Homo sapiens: one gene and its partner. The protein of the gene in region 2 purifies or fractionates together with the protein of the main gene of each other region. This does not show direct contact. Each region holds a gene or a part of one and is shown on either strand. Other genes may lie near its edges.

Evidence for each region.
Region 1: the proteins of OMD (region 2) and APAF1 purify together in Homo sapiens (affinity purification with mass spectrometry; 2 studies listed by BioGRID and IntAct, with this or other methods). This does not show direct contact.

The regions. Positions count from the first base shown.
Region 1 is NC_000012.12:98,647,864-98,658,493, reverse strand, and holds part of APAF1 (apoptotic protease-activating factor 1), read right to left. Parts: intron 10,176-10,630; 5' UTR 10,135-10,175; coding exon 9,997-10,134; intron 9,869-9,996; coding exon 9,679-9,868; intron 9,008-9,678; coding exon 8,810-9,007; intron 1-8,809. UniProt on the Homo sapiens protein: Oligomeric Apaf-1 mediates the cytochrome c-dependent autocatalytic activation of pro-caspase-9 (Apaf-3), leading to the activation of caspase-3 and apoptosis. This activation requires ATP. Isoform 6 is less effective in inducing apoptosis.
Region 2 is NC_000009.12:92,414,472-92,421,471, reverse strand, and holds part of OMD (osteomodulin precursor), read left to right. Parts: intron 1-3,897; 5' UTR 3,898-3,913; coding exon 3,914-4,853; intron 4,854-5,994; coding exon 5,995-6,320; 3' UTR 6,321-7,000.

The DNA of each region.
Region 1 (10,630 bases), on a different chromosome or scaffold from region 2:
CTGTCTAGCCCACCTATTTCAGAGTTGCTGTGAAAAATTAATGATATAAAATATGTGAAATTGCTATGTTAAGTATAAAGGATTAAAACAGGTTATTAGTGTTATGGATCTGAGAGCAACTTACCAATATTAAGCTTCAAACTAGTAAACACTAGGAATGGCCATGATTATTATTACTGTTATCATCATCATTGTTAATTGAGCCATAAAACATCTTGAAATATGTATTTTTATTTACATATTGTCAGTAGCCAAAATCTTAAGTCTTCATAGACTATACTTAATCACCTCCACATAAATATACATATATAAAAAAGAGGGGTCCCTATGTGTAAAATATGGTAAACAGTAGCATTAGATCATTCCAGTAGCATCAATCATAAAGATTTATGTGATCTTAAACATACCAAAAAAAGCAAAAAACAGACTCAAAGATAAATGAATTAAATTACACCAAAGGGCAATTTATTTACTGGTATTCACAAATAATTAAATACAAATATAAATCACTACTTTAAAAACCTAATCACCCAAAAGAGATACTTGTATATATGCACAAAGATCTATTTACATCAGATATTTATTGGGCACTATTCTAAGAGTTCTCTGTATGTTCATTCATTTAATCCTATAGCACACTATCAAGCAGACACTATTATCTTCATTTTGAAAATGAGGAAACTGAAGAATAGAAAAGTTGAGTAATTTGCCCAAAGTTACACAGCTAATGAAGCAGAGTTGAGATTCAAACTTAAAGTATCAATGTTCAACTTCTACACTATTCTGCATCCACAAGAATATTCACTGCAGCATTGTTTGCAACAGGAAAAAGCTGGAAACAACCCACCTTAACCTACTATCCCATTGCAGGCTTCCAAAGTTTCAGGCAGGCCCAACTGAACCTTATATGTAAATGAAGTTTGGAGTACTGAATAGGACTTGACATATTAATTATGAAAATTAGACTTTTTATAACTTGAAGTGACATGGAGTCTTTGAACCTGCACAAGGTCAAGGAAAGGATCAGTCCCAGAAAAGAGGACGTAAGCAATGGTCTGGATGAAGCCTTGAGGAGCAAATACCTATTCCACTTCCCAGCATAGAGAAAAAAATCGGTTTTCACTCCAGATAAGGAGAGGACTAAAGAGTCAAGAGTATGTGCTAAGAAGCAACTGAATGATGGACAATAAAATGATGGACAATGATGGCTGAAGTCTAGGAGAGGACTGATAGTATGAATAGAGAGGATATTCTGGAATCAATGGATGAGAAGTCTTGGTAAGTCTATAGCATTAAACTTGAATAAAATGGGTGGAGGTGGGTAAAGAGTAGAAGAGAATGCTCAACATCAAGATTTCAAAAGTGCTGTAGTTCTAGTAATGACAAAGATCAGGGTCTAGCCTGTAATCAGGGAAGAGTTAAGAAATGTTCACAGGAGACAAAGAGGTTAAGGAGGTAAGAGGTTAAGGTTTTGGATGACTCATCCACACAGGTATCAAAATCACTAAGAGTGCTAACAGACAAAGAGCATAAGAGGAAGGTTATAATCTACGAACTCCAATCGTCAATGAATGAGACGGTGATTACATCAATAGGAAAGGTTAGAGACATGAACCTCAAAGCATTCAGCTGGAGAAGGGAGTATTAATGGTCTGGATGAGACAACAGAGAGCAAGAACAACGCCCACCCATTTCCTGGTGCTAAAGTATGTAGGATATAAAGGAAAAAAGTTGCCATGTCACTTAAGAAGGTTATGGAGAAGGTAGTAAACTCAGGAAACTGCCCAGTTTCAGATAAGGCAAGACGGCGAATATTCTAAGAAGTTGATGATACAAGAGAGTTTCCTGCTCACAGAGGAGTTCTACAGGGTATGGCAGAAACACATAGGAATGACAGAAGAAGACTTAGATCAGAATTTGGCAATGTACTGAATAGTGACTGCATGAAAGTCTAAAATATAACAAACAACTGGAGACAGAGAACTCTACAGTAACTGAGGTAGAGACAGGGCTGTGAAGCCTGGTTTGATTATCAGTGCCAATGTCTTAGAAGAAGGTAGACAAGCCCTACTGCTTACTCCTAAAGTTTCCTGAGGTCCCCTCAGGCCTCCTTCAGTGTAAGTTTGCAGTTATGAAACAGCAAGTCCTTGAGACTTCACTTAAACTTAAAGCTGTGTTCTGTATGTGTATATATTTATAATTGCAGAGAATAAAGTTTGGAAAAATTTACTCCGAATTGTTAACCAAGATTATCTCTAGGATAAGATTTAGAATTTAGAGCCTGGCACGGTGGCTCCCAGCACTTTGGGAGGCCAAGGTAGACAGACTGCTTGAGCCCAGAATTTCGAGACCAGCCTGAGCAACATGGTGAAACCACGTCCCTAAAAAAATACAAAAAATTAGCCAGGCAAGGCCGGGCGCGGTGGCTCATGCCTGTAATCCCAGCACTTTGGGAGGCCGAGGTGGGCGGATCACAAGGTCAGGAGATCGAAACCATCCTGGCTAACACGGTGAAACCCCGTTTCTACTAAAAATACAAAAAATTAGCTGGGTGTGGTGGCAGGTGCCTGTAATCCCAGCTACTCGGGAGGCTGGGGCAGGAGAATGGTGTGAACCCGGGAGGCCGAGCTTGCAGTGAGCCGAGACCGCGCCACTGCACTCCAACCTGGGCGACAGAGTGAGACTCTGTCTCAAAAAAAAAAAAAAGAAAAATTTTGGCCAGGCAACGTGCTGTGCGCCTGTGGCCCAGCTACTCAGGAGGCTGAGGTGGGAGGATGACCTGAGCCTGGAAAGTTGAGGCTGCAGTGAGCCAGGATCATGCCACTGCACTCCAGCCTAGGTGACAAAGTGAGACTCTGTCTCAAAAATAAAAATAAAAAGATTAAGAATTTAGGAGAAAGCAAAAAGGAACAAGTAAGGAGAACTTTTATTTCTTTTTCTTTTTAAATGAAAATACTACGGCCGCCCCTACTGGGAAGTGAGGAGCCCCTCTGCCCGGCCAGCCGCCCCGTCCGGGAGGGAGGTGGGGGGGTCAGCCCCCTGCCCGGCCGGCCGCCCCGTCCGGGAGGTGAGGGGCGCCTCTGCCCGGCCGCCCCTACTGGGAAGTGAGGAGCCCCTCTGCCCGGCCACCACCCCGTCTGGGAGGTGTGCCCAACAGCTCATTGAGAACGGGCCAGGATGACAATGGCGGCTTTATGGAATAGAAAGGCGGGAAAGGTGGGGAAAAGATTGAGAAATCGGATGGTTGCCGTGTCTGTGTAGAAAGAAGTAGACATGGGAGACTTTTCATTTTGTTCTGCACTAAGAAAAATTCTTCTGCCTTGGGATCCTGTTGATCTGTGACCTTACCCCCAACCCTGTGCTCTCTGAAACATGTGCTGTGTCCACTCAGGGTTAAATGGATTAAGGGCGGTGCAAGATGTGCTTTGTTAAACAGATGCTTGAAGGCAGCATGCTCGTTAAGAGTCATCACCAATCCCTGATCTCAAGTAATCAGGGACACAAACACTGCGGAAGGCCGCAGGGTCCTCTGCCTAGGAAAACCAGAGACCTTTGTTCACTTGTTTATCTGCTGACCTTCCCTCCACTATTGTCCCATGACCCTGCCAAATCCCCCTCTGTGAGAAACACCCAAGAATTATCAATAAAAAAATAAATTAAAAAAAAAAAAAAAAAAAGAAAATACTACTTTAAAAATATTTAAACAAACAAAAACAGACAAATAAACTATCTGTTGCCTTAAGTTTCCATTTTTTTAAATTTGTACTACCTAAAATTTGTAAAAATCGGCCAGGCACAGCAGCTCACACCTGTAATCCCAGAACTTTGGGAGGCCGAGGCGAGGGGATCACTTGGGTCAGGTGTTCGAAACCAACCTGGCCAACATGGTGAAACCCCATCTCTACTAAAAATACAAAAATTAGCCGGGTGTGGTGGCACACACCTGTAGTCCCAGCTACTTGGGAGGCTGAGGCAGGGGGACTGTCAAGAGGCAGAGGTTGCAGTGAGCTGAGATCATTGCACCCCAGCCTGGGCATCAGAATGGGGCTCTGTCTCAAAATAAAATAAAATAAAATAAAATTTGTAAAAATCATCCCAAGATTAAAGGTAAAGAAAGCATCCTGATATGGCTACCTAGTAAATTCTTTCATATTTTAATTTATGTACCTATTACCTAGGGTCAAAGGCCTTTTTCCCTAAATGTATAACTAAAAATTTAGGGCATTTAAATACATGCAAGAAAAGAGAAAACACTACCAGCTTTAAAAAGGCAAACAGACCAAATGACCATCTGATATGTAAATCTCTAACCATCACAATATAACATTTAGTTAAAAACTGAACCATTAATTCCACATTTCAGAAAGAATCTAAACATCTTGACTATGGGCACAAGAGGGAGCAATTTAGCTTTGCATGAGGAGGCTGTATTTACAATTCACTCAGAGAAACTAATTCAGAGAAAAGTTGCCTTTATTCAGGGAAAACTCCACACTACTTTCACAGGAGGCTTATCCTGGTAGCAATTAATAATCTAATAACACAAAGAAATCTTGGAAAGGACAGAAACAAATAGGAACACAGCCTATGAAGAAAGCATCCATGATTAAAAACCAACATACGAATACAGTAATGTAAAATGTCACTACTGTATTTAAAGATACGTCAATTCTTTACTATTTCCCTACAAATAAGAAAAAATTAAAGCATTGAAATTTCAAAAGACAACTGGGTTACTTAAAACTGTATAGACATAAATAGTTAAAAACTATATATATATATATATATATATATATATATATTTTTTTTTTTTTTTTTTTTTTTTTTTTTTTTTTTTGAGACGGCATCTCACTCTGTCACCCAGGATGGAGAGCAGTGGTGCAATCTTGGCTCGCTGCAACCTCTGCCTCCCATGTTCAAGCGATTCTTATGCCTCAGCCACCTGGGTAGCTGGGATTACAGGCATGCGCCACCACGCCCAGCAAATTTTTGTATTTTTAGTAGAGACGGGGTTTCACCATGTTGGCCAGGCTGGTCTCAAACTCCTGACCTCAAATGATCTGTCCACCTCGGCCTCCCAGAGTGCTGGGATTACAGGCACGAGCCACCACACCCAGCTAAAAGTTAACAACTTAATATTCTTTAATTTATGCCAATCACCACCCAAAGAAAACATTTCCATAGGAACCACAATTTTAATCAAATTTAGATCTCTTATATTATCTGTACTTTTAAAAGAAAAGGTTTTGCAATACAATTAAATGTCAAAAATCCAATGTTCCTGTATTTGAGAATGGAAGTGAACTCCAGAGATTAAAATTTATCTTTGGGAAAGCACCTATTCTTGAATTAGTGGACATACAAAGGCAGACTCCAGAGAATAAAGAACTAAATATGAATAATAAGACTGTAATAGGACTACTTGAACAAAACTCAGGAAACACAAGTTAGAAGACAAAAAAAAAAACTGATTAGTTTGACTACATCAGAGTTCTCGTCTACTGAGAACACCCAGGAAAAAAATTAATCAGATGGCAAATTAAAATAAGGTATTTAAAAGTCTAAAACCAGCTGAGCACAGTGGCTCACGCCTGTAATACCAGCACTTTGGGAGGCGAGGCAGGGGGATCACCTGAGGTCGGGAGTTCGAGACCAGCCTGACCAACATGGAGAAACCCCGTCTCTACTAAAAATACAAAATTAGCCAGGCGTGGTGGTGGGTGCCTGTAATCCCAGCTACTCAGAAGGCTGAGGCAGGACAATCGCTTGAACCTGGGAAGCAGAGATTGTGGTGAGCCAAGATCGCGCCATGGCACTCCAGCCTGGGCAACAAGAGCGAAACTCCGTCTCAAAAAAAATAAAATAAAATAAAATAAAAGTCTAAAACCAACAAAGTTTAATGTCTAGAATATATAAGAAACTCCTAAAAAGCAAAAAGAAAAAAAAATTGGAAACCCCAATGGAAAATAGACAAATAATATAAACAAAATCCATAAAAAAAGAAACCCAAAAGGCTAACAACAAGCTTATGAAGAAATGTTCAAACTTGAGTTACCAGAGAAATGCAAAGTAAAAGACACAACTTTATAGAAGTTTGCCTGGCAAAAATTACAAAGCTGGATCATACCAACCGTCACTGCACAAGTAGAATTATCGGAGTCCCCATACTCATCTGGGGGAAATGTACAGACTGGAGGGGAATCAAATTTGGTATTTGTATATCCTATCATTTAGTAATTTTGGCTGGACATGGTGACTTTCATCTGTAACCCCAGCACTTTGGGAGGCCAAGGCGGGAGCATCACTTGAGCCCAGGAGTTTGAGACCAGCCTGGACAAGATAGCAAAAACCTGTCTCTACAAAAAAATGTTTAAAAACACACCAAGCATGGTGGCTTACACCTGCAATTCCAGCACTTTGGGAGGCCAAGGTGGGTGAATTGCTTGAGCTCAGGAGTTCGAGACCAACCTCGGTAACATGACAAAACCCCAACTCTACAAAAAATACAAAAATTAGCTGGGTGTGTCAGCATGCACCTGTGGTCCCAGCTACTCCGGAGGCTGAGGTGGGAAGATCACTTGAGCCCAGAAGGCAGAGGTTGCAGGGAGCCAAGATTGTGCCACTGCACTCCAGCCTGGGTGACAAAGCAAGACCCTGTTTCATAAATAAATAATTAGCCAGGCATGGTGGCGTGTGCACCCAGCTCCTCAGGAGGCTAAGGTGGGAGGATCACTTGAGCCTAAAAGTTTGAGGCTGCAGTGAGCTATGATATGGCCACTGCACTCAGCCTGGGCAACAGGGTGACACTCTGTCTCTTTAAAAAAAAACAAAAATAAATAAATAATTACTAATTTTGCTCCTAGCTACAAATACCCAAGAAATTCTTACTCACATAGAAGTTCAACCCAGCTTTGCTGCAGCAGCAGAGAGTTGGATACAATCTACATATCCATTTACTTAGGGTAATGAGCAGTAAAATGGGTTGGTGGCAATCAGGTGTAACAAATAACATGTATACATAGCAACAAGGATAAATCTTAAAAACATTGTGTCATGGGAGATAAAAAACAGAATAATACCATAACATCTATGCAAATTTAAAATACCTGCATACCAACAACATACATATTTTACAAGAGTACACACTTTACACAGACATTTACAAAGAACATACATTAAATACATTAGGATTGTCCATGGAGAGGGGAAAGGAAATAAGAATAGGAAATTTTGAAATGGAAATAAATAAATACAGTGAAAAGCTCAGCCTAGTACAGATCTACTATAATAAGCCGTGAACTAAGGAATATGAATAACTCAGTCCTCTGAACTTGAGATCCCACAAAAGTACGAGGAATATGAATTAAGCTCACATGTACAGTTGCCAGTATCTCTAGGATTTTCTCAAAACAAAGTAGTTAAAACCTGTTCCAAGATAACAATTTATACAATATGACTCCTGAATATTTAATTCCATAGATTGTTAGTCAATTTTAATCCCTAGAATTGAAAATTCATCACAATAATGTAGAGCAATTTAAATGGGGAGAGGGAGTGTTCTTTTAAACCTATAAATTGGAATATTATAAATACACAAAGAAAGTTCATAATATTGAAAGGAAAACTCATTCCTTCACACTAAAGGAACTTAAGCTAAATTTATCCTGAAATATCCTTAGTGATCAACTTTGCAGTAGGGGCTTAAAAAAATCCTTGGCTCTGAGACTTGAAAGGAGCTAAGTCTCAGGAAACTTCTCTGTAATGATAGAGGGGAAAAACCAAGGGTTAGGAATCAGGCATACTTCTGACAAGAGTATAGTCTATACCACTTACAAAGGCTATGAAATTAAACTGAGGCCATGTGTACACATAGATATACCCTAGCCTCCATATTTCTAAGTCTCTTAGAGGCTTACTACTTATTCCAATCATTCTGTCTAAACTGTCTTAACCGTAGATCATGTTATACATACATATCAAAAAAAAAAAAACAAAAAACTTTTTTTTGAGATGGAGTCTTGCTCTTGTTGACCAGGCTGGAGTGCAGTGGTGCGATCTCAGCTCACTGCAACCTCCGCCTCCTAGGTTCAAGTGATTCTCCTGCCTCAGCCTCCCGAGTAGCTGGGATTACAGGTGCTCACCACCACACCCAGCTGATTTTTTTTGTATTTTTGGTAGAGACGGGATTTCACCATGTTGCCCAGGCTGGTCTTGAACTCCTGACCTCAGGTGATCCACGCCTCAGCTGGGATTACAAGCATGAGCCACCGTGCCTGGCCTACTAAAAAAAAAATTATTAACTACTAGAAGTTGGGAACTGTCTTTGAATTCCCCTAGAAGTGTCATACAGAGAGAACACACTGATGAATGAGAACACACTGATGAATGGGGGCAGCCTAGAACTGATGGAGCTATACAACTATTCCTGATGAATACCCTGAGAACCTACCAGGATCGCTAAGGTCAGTGGTATACCTGCCAACATTTCTTAAACCCTCTTCTACCCAGTATGCCCTTCCCCACCCCAGTAACCACCCACTACCTTTCCCACCTTCCCTAGTCTCCCATCCCTACCTTCACTGCCTAGCTAACTTTTATTCTTTCTCCAAACTCCTGCTAAGATGTCATCTCATTCAGGAAGCTTGTCCTATCCATCCCCTCCCTTCAGAGAGTTAACATATCCTTCCTTTGTTCTAACTCTGTACCTTATACTTGTTTCTACCATTCAATTTATCACGTATTGATATATCATAATATTTTTACATGTCTATCTACCTTACTAGACTATGAAATGGACTAAGACACTTACCTTCTAAAAGGGAATGATCTCTAACAGCTTCTGCAGCTAATACAGACTTCCCACAGCCTGCCATTCCATGTATGGTGACCCATCCTGGTTCACCTTTCAATTTGGAGAGCTTCTGCTGAATTGCATTCACCAGCTTCTTCCTTGTGACAAAAACAACTGGCCTCTGTGGTACTCCACCTTCACACAGGACTGTCCTTACTAAAATCCAAAACAAAACAAGCATGAATGAATAGAACTTTGGAATAATTACTGAAGTAATACCATAAAAAACAAAGAGCAAAGCTGAGGCTTAGCCTGAAAATTTCCAAGAGAAGTTAAGAAAATGTGGCTAGCATATTAACTTCAATTTTCTGATTTCTCAGACAACAGAGAGCAAAGACAAACATATATCCTTCAAGATGACTAAAGAAAATGGAAGTTTCTATCTATATCTGCTTTACTCACCCAATTATTTCCTGACTTTTCATTCCCTCTCATATTGAAGACTGGGAAGGCAAGTGTAAAAGGAAGAACATTTATGGAATACCTTTCAAGAACATATATTTCTAAAGATTCTTATTTTTTCCTATAAACTCTATAAACACATAGAACTGGAAAATAAACAAGGGCCTATAAATTGTCTTATTGTCTCTAAAAATTAGGGTAGACATATTATTATCTCAGCAGTACAGTTCACTGGGCAAGAAGAAAAGTTGAGAGTTAATGTGGATGCAAATAAAAAATATTTAAATTGAAAACATCACTACAATTTTTTTAACATGCAGTTTTCAGTGAACTGGTCACACTCTCTTCAAAAGATTACATCTACAATAAGACAAACCCAAAGCAATTTTGATAGCAAAGTGATAGAAGGTATAATGGATACAAACCATACGAAGTTATTCCACTAACTGAATCTTTACCACTGGAAGAAGAGACAACAGGAATGCCATCATGGAGAAGGGCAGCAAGATCTTTATATCCTTCATGTAGTAGAGCATTGTAGAATGATACGTAGGAATCATTATCTTTTTTAAGTATCATTTTAATCAGCATAGCTGCTCTTTGCTGTTGAGTGGGCTAAAAAAAATTAAGTAGTTTAGTATACAACAATGAATATGTATGCAACATAAAGTAGTGGAGACCAGTACAAGTTCTGAAATTCTAAAAATTTTTAAGGAAGTGTGGACTGCTTCAGAGAGCTTTACCTCATTTCTTACTTTTTCCTCTTCTGATATTGTTAAAAATCCATCACTAATCATGTGATCCATGATGTAGGATGTCTTGATGTCCTTTTCCAGAGCTTCTCTATGTTGAAGCAAACAATTTCGAGCTTTTGCATCCATCTTCCCTCAGATCTTTCTCTCTCTGAGCTGTCAACCATGAGCTACAGCCAAAACACCAAAATATTTGTCAGGCCAATAAAAATATGAAAAGATACATAATCTCACTAATAAACAAGAAACGTAAAAAGAACAAAACTGATTTTTTTTCCTTGGCAAAAATTTTTAAATGGACAAAACCCAGTGCTTGGAAAGGTATGAGAAAATGGCCATTCTTATGCACTAATTGGGGAAACTAGAAAATGAATGCAATTTTTCTGGAAAGCAGTAAGATATGGAATTGTTTAAAATAAGCTTTCTCTCTAACCCAGAAATCCCATTTCTAAGGATTTACTTCAAGGAGACATTCAAATACATATGTAAAAATATCCACAAGGAGAATTAATGAGTTTCCAATCAGGTGTGGTAGCTCAAGCCTATAATCCCAGCACATTGGGAGGCTAGAGTAAAAAATAAAAAGAAAAAAGAATTAATGGAGGATGTTTCAGTGATGAACGCA
Region 2 (7,000 bases):
CCAAGATTCTCTACTTTTTCACCCACGAACACTGACTGTAGTGTGAAATCACAGCCCAAATATGTTAATTCATTAAATTAGGCATTCATTCCCAGAGTGCAAATTCCTCAGGTCAGAATTTAGGCCCTCCAAGGCCGGGGGTGGTGGCTCATGCCTGTAATCCCAGCACTTTGGGAGGCTGAGGGGGGCAGACTGGTTGAGCCCAGAAGTTCATGACCAGCCTGAGCAACATGGCAAAACCCTGTCTTTACAAAAAATTAAAAAATTAGCCAGGTGTGGTGGCACGCATCTGTAATCCCAGCTACTCAGGAGGCTGAAGTAAGAGAGTCACTTGAGCCCAGGAGATGGAGGGTGAGCCAAGAGTGCACCACTGCGCTCCAGCCTGGGTGACAGAGTGAGACTGTCTCAGAAAAAAAAAGTTAGGCTAATCCCTTCAGATCTGGATTTAATAGTCTTATTTTGCTCCTTCAAGAGTTAACCAACCACATTTCCCAAACACATCACCATCTGTTGCTTCTATGTTTTTGCTCATCTCTTCTAGCCAGAGATCTTCTTCCTCACTTCCCTCTATGAGAACCTCAACACTCCTTCAAAGTCTAGGTCAAATGCCACATCTTCCACGAATCTCACAGAAAAGAAAGAAAAATGGATGTAATATAGAGTTGCACAAAGAAACATCATGAATTTCAAAAGCACATATTGTTAAAAAAAAAACAAAAACAAAACCCAAACCATTGCTATTTTGGCATTTTCTTGTAGGTAGGGATACATATAAGAAAATAGAAATAAATGATATCTTGATCCTATTTTCTTGACTTAAAAAAAAGAAGCAAGGTCATCACCCAAAAACAATAATGGGGAATAAGGTATTAGAGGCTTCAGAGAGGAAAGTTACAAAACAGTAGCGTAGAAGAGAGGGAAGGAGGATGGTCTAAGGAAATGCAGCAGGACAGCACTTGAGGTTAGTGGTCTTGAATCGAGAGTGAGACCAGTCACCATGCTCCTGTTTTTCTTTAGTTACATTCAGCTGTGACAGTCAGGCTGTGAGTAGGTAGAGAATTGGAGTAACCAGAGTTGGAGTTTGGCAGATTGAAGGAGCCAGAAAGTTTAGGGCATGTGCAAAAGAGCAACGATAGTGATCAACTATGGGGTCTAAGTTGGTAAGAAGGAACTGACAATGTTGGGAGGTATGGATGAGGGACAGTGAAAAACAGTAGAATCAATATAGCTGAGGTTCCACGGAAATTGGAGAATTATTGCAGCTGGAGTTACTACATAGAGATAGTGGTCTGAGTGCGGAATACTCAAAATGAAGAGTATGAAGGGTTCCAGTAATAGAAAAGACAAAACCCAGGATGCGGGTGCATGGGAGCAAATGGTGAGGAAGAATGAAGGAAAGTATCACTGCAGGAAGAGAGCTCAAGGGTCTCTGACTCTACCTGAATAACTACTTCAAATTCCAAATACACACAATAGTTACATTTATAATTTCTGACAAGAAAAGAAGAAGAAATTGAGATGTTTCTTAACCTTTCTCAAATGGGGTTCTGTCAAAGAAAATAACTTAAGTAACTATTCTCTCAATTATACCAATGATGAAAAATAGCTAGAACCATTCTACATGAACAGGAGATAAGTCATTTCATTATATGCAATGATTTGTTTGGAAACTCATTCTCTCATGAAACCCTGGGTGGGAAAAGTAGAAAGGTCTCAGAATAAAAGAGGTAGGATTTTTTAAAACCTTTTTCCTAAATGATACATTCATTTCATCTGGATAGCAGTTTTCAACGTGCAAAGTACTTGTACATGCATAGCTCATACAATGCTAACAACGACCAGGCGGATAAGCAGGCAAGATATGACACAAGGAGGCTGGATGCAGTGGCTCACGCCCGTAATCCCAGCACTTTGGGAGCCCAAGGTGGGTGGATCATGAGGTCAGGAGTTCGAGAGCAGCCTGGTCAACATGGTGAAACTCCATCTCTACTAAAAATACAAAAATTAGCCGGGTGTGGTGGAGTGCACCTGTAATCCCAGCTACTGGGGAGGCTGAGGCAGGAGAATTGCTTAAACCCAGGAGGTGGTGGCTGCAGTGAGCCGAGATCGCACCACTGCACTCCAGTCTGGGCAACAGAGCAAGACTCCATCTCAAAAAAAAAAAAAAAAAAAGACACAAGGCAACATACAAGATAAGCAGCCAAGGTATAATTCAGCTATAATTGCAATTCTTATTTTATTGATGAGGCAAGAGGCAGATATGTTAAGTGACAGAAATGAAATATAGGTTTCAGGCTTCTCATCTGGGACATAATTGACCCTTCCCTAGAACTTCAAGTTTCAGCACTGAGTGTTCATTGTGAAGTGTGCCCTTTTGCAATTCTTTTCCACACAATATCCTCCTCCTGCATTCTACTGCACGTGTATTTGATTCTCCACAAGACTTTAAACACCTGGGAGACAAGGACAGTGTGTTTTTAATAATATTTTTGTATCTAAAACTTAAATATATTAATGGAAAAAAGGAAGCTAGGAAGAAAAATGTAAAGACACTTGAACTTTGTAGAATGTAAACACTGTATGTCTTTAGGATTTAAAGTAGTTATTCAAGCAGAGTCGGAGACTAAATAATTGGATTCTGGAAACTGTTTCATGAGGAAAATTTGATGGTGCTGTTAGTTTTGGACAGAAAATATTAAAAGGAAACATGAATACTATTTCTAAATATCTGAAGTTATCACACAAAAGGGAGCATTTCACGTTCTTCTGAAGGGCAGAAAAAGGTATCAGCAAATAGAAGTTGTAGAATCTCCCAGGCAAAAGCTCTCTAACTAAAATAAAGGTCTTTCCTCCCCCAGGCAGTGACCATCATTAAAGGATCAGGTAATTCCAAAGAACACACAGCATTTACAGTGGAGGGATCAGACTGTAGTTGACTGATGTCATGCTATTATCATAGATCTATACCCTAGTAAGCAAGAGAAACTGGGACTCTTAAAAGATGGTTACTTAGTAGAAAGTCTAGTATACCAGACTTTTGACTCAAGTTCAGTGTAATATGTGACTTAAAAAAAAAAAAAATCTCGGCCAGGCGCAGTGGCTCACGCCTGTAATCCCAGCACTTTGAGAGGCTGAGGTGGGTGGATCACCTGAGGTCAGGAGTTAGAGACCAGCCTGGCCAAGATGGAGAAACCCCGTCTCTACTAACAATACAAAAATTAGCCAAGCGTGGTGGCACGCGCCTGTAGTCCCAGATACTTGGGAGGCTGAGGCAGGAGAATCACTTGAACCGGGGAGGTGGAGGCTGCAGTGAGCCAAGCCTGCACCACTACACTCCACCCTGGGTGACAAGGCAAGACTCCATCTCAAAAATAAAAAGAAAAAGAAAAAGAAAAAAGAAAAAAAACTCACTTCATTTGTACTTAAACATTAATTTTGGTTTGAGGCCAGGCGTGGTGGCTCACACCTGTAATCCCAGCACTTTGGGAGGCCGAGGCCAGAGGATCCCTTGAGGTCAGGAGTTTGAGACCAGCTTGGGCAACACAACGAAACCTTGTCTCTACTAAAAAATACAAAAATAAGCTGGGCATAGTGGCATGCACCTGTAGTCCCAGCTACTTGGGAGGCTGAGGCATGAGAATTGCTTGAACCTGGGAGCCTGGGAGGCAGAAGTTGCAGTGAGCCGAGATTGTGCCACTGCACTCCAGCCTGGGTGACAGAGGAGACACTGTCACAAAAAAAGAAAAAAATTTTGGTTTGAGCACTGCCCATTCTTTCTGGATATTCTTTTATATATAGACATAGGTATAATACATTTCATATAACTGAGAATTTATACAAAGCGTATTCTGAGTTTACTCACTTTCTCCACAATGTTTCCTTTTCTCCTTGCAATAGGAAAAAAAAAAAGAAGATGGGTTTTTTAAGTCCAATATATGTTATTTTCTTCTTTTTTGGAGTCAAAGTACATTGCCAATATGAAACTTATCAGTGGGATGAAGACTATGACCAAGAGCCAGATGATGATTACCAAACAGGATTCCCATTTCGTCAAAATGTAGACTACGGAGTTCCTTTTCATCAGTATACTTTAGGCTGTGTCAGTGAATGCTTCTGTCCAACTAACTTTCCATCATCAATGTACTGTGATAATCGCAAACTCAAGACTATCCCAAATATTCCGATGCACATTCAGCAACTCTACCTTCAGTTCAATGAAATTGAGGCTGTGACTGCAAATTCATTCATCAATGCAACTCATCTTAAAGAAATTAACCTCAGCCACAACAAAATTAAATCTCAAAAGATTGATTATGGTGTGTTTGCTAAGCTTCCAAATCTACTACAACTTCATCTAGAGCATAATAATTTAGAAGAATTTCCATTTCCTCTTCCTAAATCTCTGGAAAGACTCCTTCTTGGTTACAATGAAATCTCCAAACTGCAGACAAATGCTATGGATGGGCTAGTAAACTTGACCATGCTTGATCTCTGTTATAATTATCTTCATGATTCTCTGCTAAAAGACAAAATCTTTGCCAAAATGGAAAAACTAATGCAGCTCAACCTCTGCAGTAACAGATTAGAATCAATGCCTCCTGGTTTGCCTTCTTCACTTATGTATCTGTCTTTAGAAAATAATTCAATTTCTTCTATACCCGAAAAATACTTCGACAAACTTCCAAAACTTCATACTCTAAGAATGTCACACAACAAACTACAAGACATCCCATATAATATTTTTAATCTTCCCAACATTGTAGAACTCAGTGTTGGACACAACAAATTGAAGCAAGCATTCTATATTCCAAGAAATTTGGAACACCTATACCTACAAAATAATGAAATAGAAAGTATGTAGACTTTTATTGTGTTTTGAAGAGAGAAAGAATGGAATCCTGATCTTTTAAAGAAAAAAATATTCAATAAGCTATGCTTTAGACATTGCTGAAAATAGTTGTTTTGAAGTTGCTTAAGGGAATGGCAGAAATCTGCCCCAGAGAAATGTGTGCTATTCAGTTTATAGTCCTTTTTATTAAATTTTATTGCCTTAAATATTGAGAAATAGGCTGGGCGTGGTGGCTCATGCCTGTAATCAGAGCACTTTGGGAGGCTAAGGCGGGTGGGGTGGATCACTTGAGGCCAGGAGTTCGAGATCAGCCTGGTCAATATAGTGAAGTCCCATCTCTACCAAAAATAGAAAAATTAGCCAGGCATGGTGGCATGTGCCTGTACTCCCAGCTACTTAAGAGGCCGAGGCATGAGAGTTGCTTGAACCCAGGAATCGGAGGTTGCAGTGAGCTGAGATCATGCCACTGCTTTCTGGCCTGGATGACAGAGCAAAACTCTGTCTTAAAAAAAAAAAAAATAAAATAAATAAATAAATAAATAAATAAATAAATATATATATATACACACATATATAATATATTTATTTATATATAAAAAATATATATTCTCTTTTATATATATAACTGATAATTTATACATATATATATAACTGACAATTTATACAGAGCGTATTCTGAGTTTACTCACTTTCTCCACAATGTTTCCTTTTCTCCTTGCAACAGGAAAAAAAAAAAGAAAAAAAGAAGAAATATATAATTTTATATATATATATTTTTTTATATATATGTATAAATTGTCAGTTTTATATATGTATATATATAAAAGAGAGAAATAATAGAGTACATGAAGAAATATGAGTATCCTAAGTAGTGGGATTGTAGATAATTTTTTTTTGAGATTGTTCTACTAGGAATTTATTAATCAGAAAAGCCAATGAAGCCATATATATTTTGTTAATATAAAACTCATAATTTAATTTTCTTTTTATTATTTGATTAATATAAAAAGGAAACCTAATTCAATTTATAAATATTTTAATTAACAGAATTATATCCCATACAATATAAAATCTAACATAGAATTATGGCTATAACTATGGATTATACTATAATACAAGATTAATTTTTAATTTATTTCTTTCAGAGATGAATCTTACAGTGATGTGTCCTTCTATTGACCCACTACATTACCACCATTTAACATACATTCGTGTGGACCAAAATAAACTAAAAGAACCAATAAGCTCATACATCTTCTTCTGCTTCCCTCATATACACACTATTTATTATGGTGAACAACGAAGCACTAATGGTCAAACAATACAACTAAAGACACAAGTTTTCAGGAGATTTCCAGATGATGATGATGAAAGTGAAGATCACGATGATCCTGACAATGCTCATGAGAGCCCAGAACAAGAAGGAGCAGAAGGGCACTTTGACCTTCATTATTATGAAAATCAAGAATAGCAAGAAACTATATAGGTATACACTTACGACTTCACAAAACCTATACTTAATATAGTAAATCTAAGTAAACATGTATTACTCAAAGTAATATATTTAGAATTATGTATTAGTATAAGATCAGAATTGAATTTAAGTTGTTGGTGACATCTGCATCATTTCATAGGATTAGAACTTACTCAAAATAATGTAAATCTTTAAAAATATAAATTAGAATGACAAGTGGGAATCATAAATTAAACGTTAATGGTTTCTTATGCTCTTTTTAAATATAGAAATATCATGTTAAAGAAAGTGAGTGTATCATTTCTATTAACAGTAATTTTTCTAAAAATGAGGAAGGAAGTAGCATTAGCAGTAAAGACCCACAGGCCATGACCTTTTTGATCACTCTGAGGACAATATTTAAATGACAGGAAGGTATATTAATGTAACAAGCATTCATTTAAGGAATAGACCATTTTCTCTGACCTCTTCTTCAGGAAAGCTTTCACACTGGTATTTGTGATCTCACCATTATGACATCCATCCCCCTAGCTCACCACATAGCACATAGAATGATATTTTTGATTTGTAAGAGGCCATCCAGGTACTAAGGACCCAAGGCATACAGATTCACAAAATTAACTAATCTTTTTGCCTCAGAATACCAAAACAACAAAATTATAAAGCTGTATTTGGAC